Regions from separate parts of the Homo sapiens genome. Here region 1 is linked to region 2. The links come from fine-mapping of genetic effects on gene expression. A gene starts in region 2. The other region holds a variant in brackets. All regions are shown on one strand. Distances are from middle to middle.

Region 1 (5,379 bases), 130 kb before region 2:
CTACAAAATAAAAAATAAAAATTAGCCAGGCATGGTGGCATGCGCCTGTGGTTCCAGCTACTTGAGATGCTAAGACGGGAGGATTCCTTGAGCCCGAGAGGGTGAGGCTGCAGTGAGCTATGACTGTACCACTGTACTCTAGCCTGGAAAACACAGTGAGACCCTGTCTCAAAAAAAAAAAAAAAAAAAACCAGGAATGAAGTACTGATACATGTTACAATATGGATGACATGTTAAAACTGACCACTTTAGCCAGCCGGGCGTGGTGGCTCATGCCTGATTTAATCCCAGCACTTTGGGAGGCCGAGGCGGGCAGATCACCTGAGGTTGGGAGTTCAAGACCAGCCCAACAACATGGAGAAACCCCGTCTCTACTAAAAATACAAAATTAGCCGGGAGTGGTGGCGCATGCCTATAATCCCAGGTACTTGGGAGGGTGAGGCAGGAGAATCGCTTGAACCCAGGAGGTGGAGGTTGCGGTGAGCTGAGATCACGCTATCGCATTCCAGCCTGGGCAACAAAAGCGAAACACCATCTCAAACAAACAAACAAACAAAAAACCTGACCACTTTAAATGGTTAAACTGCATGGTACGTGAATTATATTTCAATAAAGGTGTTTAAATAAAAGGTTACTTCTGAAAGGTGGCCAGTGGATCCAGCAATTAGGATGTAGCTGGTACTTCAGCAGAAGACAAGTGCAGGGTTGTGAGGCATAAACAGTAAGTGAAAAAGTGGAGAACAGTATATGGAGCATGGTGGTTAAGAGTACAGGCTCTGACGTTAGATATAACTGGATTAACATCTCTACTTTATCTTTTTTTTTCTTTTTTTTGAGACAGAGTCTCGCTCTCTCGCACAGGCTGGAGTGCCATGGTGCGATCTTGGTTCACTTCAACCTCCACCTCCCAGATTCAAGTGATTCTCATGCCTAAGCCTAGTGGTGGCTCATGCCTGTAATCCCGCCACTTTGAAAAGCCAAGGTCAGTGAATCGCTTGAGGCCAGGAGTTCAAGACCAGCCTGGCCAACATGGTGAAACCCTGTCTCTACTAAAAATACAAAAATTAGCCAGGCGTGGTGGGGCGCAGCTGTAGTTCCAGCTACTTAGGAGGCTGAGGCAGGAGAATCGCTTGAATCCCAGAAAAGGAGGAAGTTGCAGTGAGCCAAGATTGTACCACCACACTCCTCCAGCCTGGGTGACAGAGTGAGACTGCTTCAAAAGAGAAAATCAGCCGGGTGTAGTGGCTCACGCCTGTAATCCCAGCACTTTGGGAGGCTGAGGAGGGCAGATCACCTGAAGTCAGGAGTCCGAGACCAGCCTGGCCAACATGGCAAAACCTCATCTCTACTAAAAATAAAAAAATTAGCCCGGTGTGGTGGTGCATGCCTATAATCCCAGTTACTCAGGAGGGTGAGGCAGGAGAATCGCTTGAACACAGGAGACAGAGATTGCAGTGAACCAAGATCGCAGCACTGCATTCCAGCCTGGGCGACACAGCAAGACTCCATCTCCAAAAAAAGAAAATCACAAATGTAGATTAGAAATGCCCCTAAAAGGCCGGGTGCAGTGTCTCATGCCTGTAATCCCAGCACTTTGGGAGGCCGAGGCGAGTGGATCACGAGGTCAGGAGATCTAGACCATCCTGGCTAACACGGTGAAACCCTGTCTCTACTAAAAATACAAAAAATTAGCCAGGCGTGGTGGCTGGCGCCTGTAGTCCCAGCTACTCGGGAGGCTGAAGCAGCAGAATAGCATGAACCTGAGAGGCGGAGCTTGCAGTGAGCCAAGACAGCGCCACTGCACTCCAGCCTGGGTCAAAGAGCAAGACTCCGTCTCAAAAAAAAAAAAAAAAAAAAAGAAAAAAGAAATGCCCCTAAAGGTAAAGTCATCTTCCTCTTTTATTTTTTTTTTTAGTACATGTGCAGGATGTGCAGATTTGTTACATAGGTAAACGTGTGCCATGGTGGTTTGCTGCACACATCAACCCATCACCTCATCATAAAAAAAATAAATTTTTTTAAGCTATTTAAACACTACGGGCCTGTATGTTCATCTGGAAAATGAGGGTTATAACAGTATCCATTTTAAAGATTTCTTATGGTGAAATAAAGAAAAGAATGCGGCCGGGCGCGGTGGTTCATGCCTGTAATCCTAGCATTTTGGGAGGCCAAGGTGGGTGGATCACAAGGTCAGGAGTTCAAGACCAGCCTGGCCAACATGGAGAAATCCCGTCTCTACTGAAAATACAAAAATTAGCCAGGTGTGGTGGTGGGCGCCTGTGATCCCAGCTACTCGGGAGGCTGAGGCAGGAAAATCACTGGAACCTGGGAGGAGGAGGTTGCAGTGAGACAAGATGGCGCCACTGCACTCCAGCCTGGGCGACAGAGCAAGATTCCATCTCAAAAAAAAAAATAAAAAGAGGTAATATGAGTTGGTCTGGAAATATAGGGAAGAAAGGCATCCCAGAAAGAGAGCAAAGACTGAGAGAGCAAAGACTGCAAAGTCATGAAGAAATGATAAGGGATATTTTGTGAAATATAATGCTGAGTGTGGCAGGGGTCGATAGTGGGTATGGGAGCCAGTTATTGGAGATGGAAAGTAGATAAATGGGTTGGGCCTGCTTGTGAAAGGTTTTAAAATTCACGTAGTACTACTATCCCATGTTTACAGATGAGAAAACTGAGGAGGGTATGAGAAGTTAAATAACTTGTCTATGGTAACTCAATTAGTAAGTGCCAGAGCCATGATTTACACTCTATCTGTACTCCGAATCCCTACATTTATATCTGTGAATCTGTGCTCAAGGATGCAAATGGAAACCAGAAAACCTTATCCTTTA[C/T]ATGCAGAAGCTATACTGTTTCCTCTTTTTAAGACACAGCAACAGGCCAGGCGCAATGGCTCATGCCTGTAATCCTAGCACTTTGGGAGGCCGAGGTGGGCAAGATCGGTTGAGCTCAAGAGTTTGAGACCAGCCTGGGCAACATGGCAAAACCCCATCTCTACCAAAAAAGTACAAAAATTAACAGGGTGTGATGGAAAGCACCTGTAGTCCCAGCTACTCAGGAGGCTACTGGGCAACAGGAATGAAATCCTGTCTCACAAGGGAAAAAAAAAAAAGACAAACAGATTTCTTCCTCTTTGTCTTCTCAGCTTTTGAGCAAAGTGAACATGTAACAGCACCTCTAACAAATTTGTAGACCAAATCGAAGATTCAGACACAGCAAATATGGTCACAAGCGCATACTCTACACAGGTTCCATCCACACTGAACGTCTCTCTCTCTTTTTTTTTTTTTTTTGAGACGGAGTCTTGCTGTGTTGCCCAGACTGGAGTGCAGTGGCACGATCTCGGCTCACTACAAGCTCCGCCTCCTGGGTTCACGCCATTCTCCTGCCTCAGCCTCCCGAGTGGCTGGGACTACAGGCGCCCGCCACTACGCCCAGATAACTTTTTGTATTTTTAGTAGAGATGGGGGTTTCACCATGGTCTCAATCTCCTGACTTTGTGATCCGCCTGCCTTGGCCTCCCAAAGTGCTGGGATTACAGGCGTGAGCCACCGCGCCCAGCCGAATGTCTCTCTTTTGTACTAACCTAGGACCACGTCTTCCACTACTTTCCATGGAACTGTTTCATTGCAACGAATAGACTCCAAATTCTCCAAAGGATATAAGAATTAAACAGTGGGAATAAAAAGAAGTGACATTAGGCCGGGCGCAGTGGCTCACACCTGTAATCCTGGGAGGCTGAGGCGGGTGGATGACGAAGTCAGGAGTTAGAGACAAGCCTGACCAACATGGTGAAACCCAGTCTCTACTAAAAATACAAAAATTAGCCAGGCATGGTGGCGCATGCCTGTAATCCCAGCTACTCGGGAGGCTGAGGCAGGAGAATCGCTTGAACCGAGAGGCGGAGGTTGCAGTGAGCCAAGATTGCGCCACTGCACTCCAGCCTGGATGACAGAGACTCCAACCCCCTCCTTAAAAAAAAAGAAGTGATATTTATTAAATGACTGAAAATGTACATTACCTGATTTTCATACCCACAAATGAATGCACAAATACACTGTAGTCCTCTCAGTCCAATCTAGTCTGAATTTAGGGCCAGTAAGGAATAAGGATCTGAACAGTGACCTTTGCAATCACGGAACATTTGATTCTTACCATTGTAGGTTGCACTATTTTTCACAATTAGCTCCAGATGCTCTCTGAACTCTTCCCGAGATGGGTAGAGGCGTTTACGCACGTTTTCGCGGAGTGTTTGTAGGTCCATTGGCCGAGTGATGATTTTGTAGTAGTCCTTTACAACCTTTGCATTGACTGGAGTGTGGAAAGGGTATGTCTGCAAACAAGGGCCAGAACCATACATCAGCAAATAACAGTTGCCAGAGCCAATTCCTGAAGACTTTCACATCTTACCTATCTACCTGGCTATCAACACTGAAAGGAATCTTTCTAGATGGAGCACGTCTGTTTCCTCTACTAAACTGCTTAAAAAAACAAACAAACAAAAAAAACTAACTCCCTAAAAATTAGGCATTCCAGTTACCTAAATCTACAGATTACTGCCCTCTATTGGAAATCACAGACAGAACAAAAGGCCTTGACATCCCTACTATAGATATCCAATGCAATGAACTCACATTTGGAAGATCTCTCATGTCATTGATGATAGACTCCAAGATGGACGACAGCGTCACCATAGGGTCTGTGCGGCGCCGGTGGATGGACTTATGAGGTCTCTAAGGAGAAATGTGAAATCAGAATGCTTCCTCAGACCAAAAAAAATCCACATTCTGTCCAGGCACAGTAGCTCACACCTGTAATCCCAGCACTTTGGGAGGCTGAGGTGGGTGGACCACTTGAGGCCAAGAGTTCAACACCAGCCTGGGCAACATGGTGAAGCCCCGTCTCTACTAAAAATACAAAAATTAGCTGGGTGTGGTGGCATGTGCCTGTAATCTGAACTACTCAGGAGGCTGAGGTAGGAGGATCACTTGAACCTGGGAGGCAAAGGGTGCAGTGAGCCAAGATCACACCATTGCACTCCAGCCTGGGTAACAGAGCGAGACTCTGTCTCAAAAAAAAAAAAAAAAAAAAATCTGCCGAGCACGGTGGCTCACTGTAATCCCAGCACTTTGGGAGGCCAAAGCGAGTGGATTACCTGAGGTCAGGAGTTCAAGACCAGCCTGGTCAATAAGGCAAAACCCCATCTCTACTAAAAATACAAAAATTAGCTGGGTGTGGTGGTGTGCACCTGTAATCCCAGCTACTTGGGAGGCTGGGGCAGGAGAATTGCTTGAACCTGGGAGGTGGAGGTTGCAGTGAGCCGAGACTGTGCCACTGCACTTCAGCCTGGGCGACAGAGTGAGATTCCGTCTC
Region 2 (5,379 bases):
CCTGGAAATTTATCCTAATAATTTTAAAATTAAAAACTACACCCGTGAAAGTGTTCATTGTAATGGCCTTTATGGTAAGAAAACAATAAAAATGACTTAAATTTCCAAAATTAGGGGAATGGTTTTCATGAAAGTACGGTACATCTATACAACAGAATGTTCACAGCCTTAAAAATTATGAAGACCACATAAACACGAGTATGTCTGATATTCTAACGGGGAAAGGTTTTTTCTAATTTTAAAGATGTGAATATAGACAAGGGAACAGAAGGTAGGCAAAAATGAAAACAACTGCATTGCTTTTAGGTTACTGATAATTTTTCAATTCACGATTTCATTCAAAAAATATTCAGTGAATGCCTACCATTTGCTAGGCACTATTCTAGATGGTTACAGTGGATTAGTGAACAAAGCAGATTCTTGCCTACAGAACTTGCTTCTAGTGAGAGACAATATATATAAGTAAATTATATAGTACTTAAGAGGTAAGTGCTATGGGAAAATAAATAAAAATGGGGGAGGAAGGCAAAGTGGATAGGGAGAAGGAGGCAGATGGTAAACCTCACAACATCTGACATTTCAGCCAAGATTTAAATTTTCACATTTATATCATTTAATCAATTTTGTTTCTCATTAATGTTATAAGGTATCAGAAATTACAACTTAAAATTTTATTTAAAAATTTTTAAACAGAAATTACAATCAGATACTTATTACAAAATGTATTATAGAAAATTTAGAAAAACCAAAATAAATAAAAATACAAATATAAAAATCCATAGACCTGCCACTAAAAATAGTCACTGTTAACATGTTGGTATATCCTTCTAGTCATTAATTTATGTATTTGAAATGAGATATGATAAATACTATTTTGTAACCTGTTTTTTCCACTTTATGATGTATCATAAACAGCTTTCATGTCATTAAATCTTTTACGTTAACGGACACAGCATTCAGTTGTCAACCAAGTCCCTATTGTGTTGGACACCTGGGTCGTTTCTAATTTTTCACCATTATAATCAATGCTCATAGCTAAATCTTTGGACATATCCATGATTAAATATTCCTCCCACAATTTTCCATTCTTGCTTATTTAGACATACATTATCATTTCAGTAACTGATAATGCACCCTTGTATATTCAGAGTTTCCTCATTTCTGCTAATGTCAACATAATTGTAATTTTTAATGACTATATAAAGTTCACCAGGATGTACTACTTTACTAAACTACTCCCTACTATAAGACATTTAGGTGGTTGTTTTTGGCTTTTCCTATTATAACGCTGCAGTAAATGTCTTCTGGCTTTCAGCTTTATTTCCATTTAATTATTTCCATAGGATAAATTCTTAAAAATAGAATCTATCCTGTGACTCTTGCCACATAGTGCAACGTCGTTTTCTCAAAAAGTTGTAAGGATTTTAAACGCCATGAGCAGGTGTAGCAGTTTCATGGCAAATGAGATACCTTTAAAAAAAAACAACAAAAAAAGAAAATAGTGTTTTAAAAAATAAGATATAAAAGCAGGAAGTTAAAACATACAAAATCTAAAGTCCACCCTGGAAATAGTTGGGGATGGGGCAAGGTGGGCATCAGAATCAAATCTTTTCCTACTTGGGTTCCAGGTGTTAAACATCTCTCTTCCCCTGGCCCCGGAGAGGCCCAGGATGGAATGCACTAGTGAAGACTATCATAATAAAGCACCTATAACAGTGCCCACCAAGTAGCAAGTACCTTGAGAAGTATTTCTTCCTATCACCTACTTCTGATGACCACCAATATAATTTGGAAATATGTGCAGAACCCTCTTCAGAGTAATAAATTCACTGTCGCCTAAATACTGGGCCTCTGAAAAGAGAACACAGCACGAAGATCAGCAGCAAAGATTACTGTCTACTTGTGTCCCTGAGACTAATAATCCTGATGAAGAATTTTGAGAGAAAACACGTATTGCTGGTTGAGAAAGACTCTAACCACTGGGCATGCTACAGTTAAACAAATGTTTAGGTAGAGGACCAAACACTACATCACACATATCTGAAATCTAAATCTGGTATAAATTTACAAGACTGAGATGGCTGCCTGGATGGCCAGCCTGAAAGCTGTAAAATGAACTAAGGTCCTTCTCTAAGAGTTTCTTAGGACTTTTCATTTAATAACAAGGAAGGTGGACAAGGACACAGTATAAATATAACCAGGGCCCCCCCACTAGAGTTGCCAGATTTAGCAAATAAAATACACAACCCACAATTAAATTTGAAATTTAATTGAAAACTATGCAACATATACTTAAAAATAATTGGTTGTGTAGGTGAAATTCTAATTCAACTGGGTGCCCGGTGTTTTGTCTGGCAACCCTATCCCTTCCTTACACCTACCTCAACTTCGATTGCAGACAGCAAAGTGCCTCCCAGTTCCCTCTAACCTCGACTTCTCTGTTAAAAACACAAAGAAACGTGTCAGGTTATGGTAAGAGTTTCTCAAACTGGAAAATAAAATACTCGATGCGAAATCCATAAATTTAAGTTTCATTTTAAAAAGTGATGCTATATAAATGCGTCAAGGAGCTAGGCGGTTAGGACTTTAGAAAAAGGGCATACAGAAATCTGACTACGAAAGCGGCGGGCTCTGGATATGCAGAGGAACTTTCCAGCTAAGAGTTTTGACAAAGAAATATCGCTTGAGGGGCCCCACTTGCCCATTCTGAATTAATGGCCTCGCGGGGCCGAGAGGAGGAGCGCCCGACAAAGCGCCTCCTCCTCTAACCAACCACGACTTCAGCGATCTCTCATAATAGACCCCACACCGTCGGGCCCAGGGCGGCTCAGAGGCCGGCAACTTACTGACACGGGTAAGATTCGGAGATGAGTTGCACAAAGAAACAGGGCAGGAACGAAAATGGGGAAAGCCCGAAGCGAAGCGAGTTGAGAAAGGTGGCCCCCCGCGGGTGGGCTGAGAAGGCAGTGTGGCGGCAGAGACAAGGCCTCAAGGGGCCTCGGAAGCGCCATCCACCCTCCAAACCTAGCTTCGCCCTAGCCTCTTCCTTCGCTGATTGTTCCAAGAAATCCCACTACCCTCCCAAACAAGAACCAAGACGTCCCAAAACTCACCCTCTACCGACTGGTATCTCCTCGGAGTAACGGCGACGCTACACGGCCTCTCCCGTCCCGAGAAAAGAGCGCGCGACCGCCGGAAACGAGACGACGGAGCTCGGTGCCTGCCAAGGGGTACAAAATGGCGTTCTCGATTGGTTAGCTAAACTGCCAATCAAGGTTTAGCTCCCGAGGCGGAATCATTTTTCCGCCATTTCTTAGATTCTATTGGCTGCCGAATGCCAAAGGCTTGAGTTCGTGTGAACGACAGATGGGGACAAAGAGCGAGGCTTTGTACCTAATGCGCATGTGCAAGCGGCCTGGCGCGTGAGACGGGAAAGGAAAGGGGGAGGGGGAAAAGGAAAGGGAGAGGAGCTGGGGGTGGGGGTCGGAAGGAGAGACCTAAACGAACTGACTGAAAGACTGAAAGACCAAGTGGTGGGAGGGGGAAAGGAGAGGAGAAAAAGGGAGAGGAAAGTGGAAAGAGGGAGAGGAAGGGGAGAAAATGCGCGCGTAGGCGTGCTCGGAGCAGTCCTGCACTGCGCCTGTGCAAGAAGCAAGAGTAACAATGTCATTGTATTCAATGGAATAGATTTGGCCTTTTCCTACTGAAAAAAATGCCCCGCCATGTTTCTTTTTTCACACTTCCTTGTTAGGGCTTGCATCCTGACACCCCATACTTAATCATATTTCTAGATGCTTCTCCTGTTGCTGGGGCTACTCGGGAAACGCAACTGAAATAGTCAACTCTTTGGTCATGGTTACAGACGGGGTGGGGGAGGAGGGGGTGCATCATACCTTAGGCTCTGCGTGATTACACAGAATTGTAACCAGCACCCTCATTTCCATGGTAACCAGAAAACCTAGCAGTCCAAACATCACTATTGTTCCTATGATTTACTGAGAGATTCAACAGGTGTCATCATTGCCATGGATATATTGTAGGCCTCTAGATCAGACTGTATATTCCATAGGAGGCCTATCAGTAACTAACCTTCATTGTTTCAGTAATGCCTAACTCGCCCCGCCCCCGTGGTTAACCAAGGACTACAAGGATCAATTGATAAGTATGTGTTGTTAATTCCCATTAATTAATTCACACTCAGGGTTGCAGGGTATCCCAATGGGCACCACCTTATGTGGGGACACAATGATCTAGACTTGGGCTGTTCAATAGAACTGTGTGCAATGATGGAAAGGTCCTATGTCTGCTGTGTTCAATATGGCAGCTACTAACTATAAGTGGCCATTGAAATATGACTAATGCAACTGAGAACCTGAATTTTTAATTCCGGCTAGGTGCAGTGCTCATGCCTATAATCCCAGTACTTTGAGAGGCCGAGACGGGAGGATCGCTTAAGCCTAGGAGTTCGAGACCAGCCTGGGTAACATGGCGAAACTCCATCTCCGAAAAAAAGCAAAAATTAGCCTGTCGTGGTGGAGTGTCCCTGTAGTCCCACCTACTCAGGAGGTTAAGGTTAAGGTGGGAGGATAGCTTGAGCTCGGGAAGCAGAGGCTGCAATGAGTGGAGATCGCGCCACTGCACTCCAGCCTGCGTGACAGAGTGAGACCCCGTCTCAATTAAAAAGAAGAAGAAGAAAACTAATACTTACTCATAGAAAAAAAAAGAAAAATCAAACAATACCCAACAGTATAAAGAGAAAAGTCTTGGCCGGGTGTGGTGGCTCACGCCTGTAATCCTAGCACTTTGGGAGGCCGAGGCGGGAGGATCACGAGGTTAGGAGATCGAGACCATCCTAGCTAACATGGTGAAACCCCGTCTCTACTAAAAATACAAAAAAAAAATTAGCCGGCGTGGTGGCGGGTGCCTGTAGTCCCAGCTACTCGGGAGGCTGAGGCAGGAGAACGGTGTGAACCCAGGAGGCGGAGCTAGCAGTGAGCCAAGATTGCGCCACTGCACTCCAGCCTGGGCAATGAGTGAGACTCCGTCTCAAAAAAAAAGTCTCCCCCCCATTCATTCTCTAGAGATAGCAATTATGACCACTTTCTTGCGTTTCTATTTTCTATGTATGTACTGTTTATATTTATTTACTTAGAGACAGTCTTGCTCTGTCACCCAGGCTGGAGTGCAGTGGCACAAACACAGCTCACTGCAACCTCTGCCTTTCAGGTTCTAGCGATTCTCCCACCTCAGCTTCCTCAGTAGCTGGGACTACAGGAGTGCACAACTACGCCCACGGTGGGTTTGTATGTTTTGTAGAGACAGGGTTTCACCATATTGCCCAAACTGGTCTTAAACTCCTGGGTGTAAGGAATCCCGCCT

Evidence for each region.
Region 1: its variant is fine-mapped to the expression of NONO in whole blood (TOPMed, PIP above 0.99). The same link has a PIP of 0.9 or more in blood mononuclear cells.

The regions. Positions count from the first base shown.
Region 1 is chrX:71,406,934-71,412,312 of GRCh38, reverse strand. TAF1 (TATA-box binding protein associated factor 1) reads right to left here. Exons shown (of 38, transcript NM_004606.5): 27 at 4,641-4,739; 28 at 4,162-4,339. Among named protein-coding and RNA genes, the nearest start is that of TAF1, 43 kb to the right of the region's middle. The variant C/T (reference allele first, on the strand shown) is at 2,841.
Region 2 is chrX:71,281,456-71,286,834 of GRCh38, reverse strand. NONO (non-POU domain containing octamer binding) reads right to left here and starts at 3,200. Exons shown (of 12, transcript NM_007363.5): 1 at 3,114-3,200; 2 at 2,382-2,438.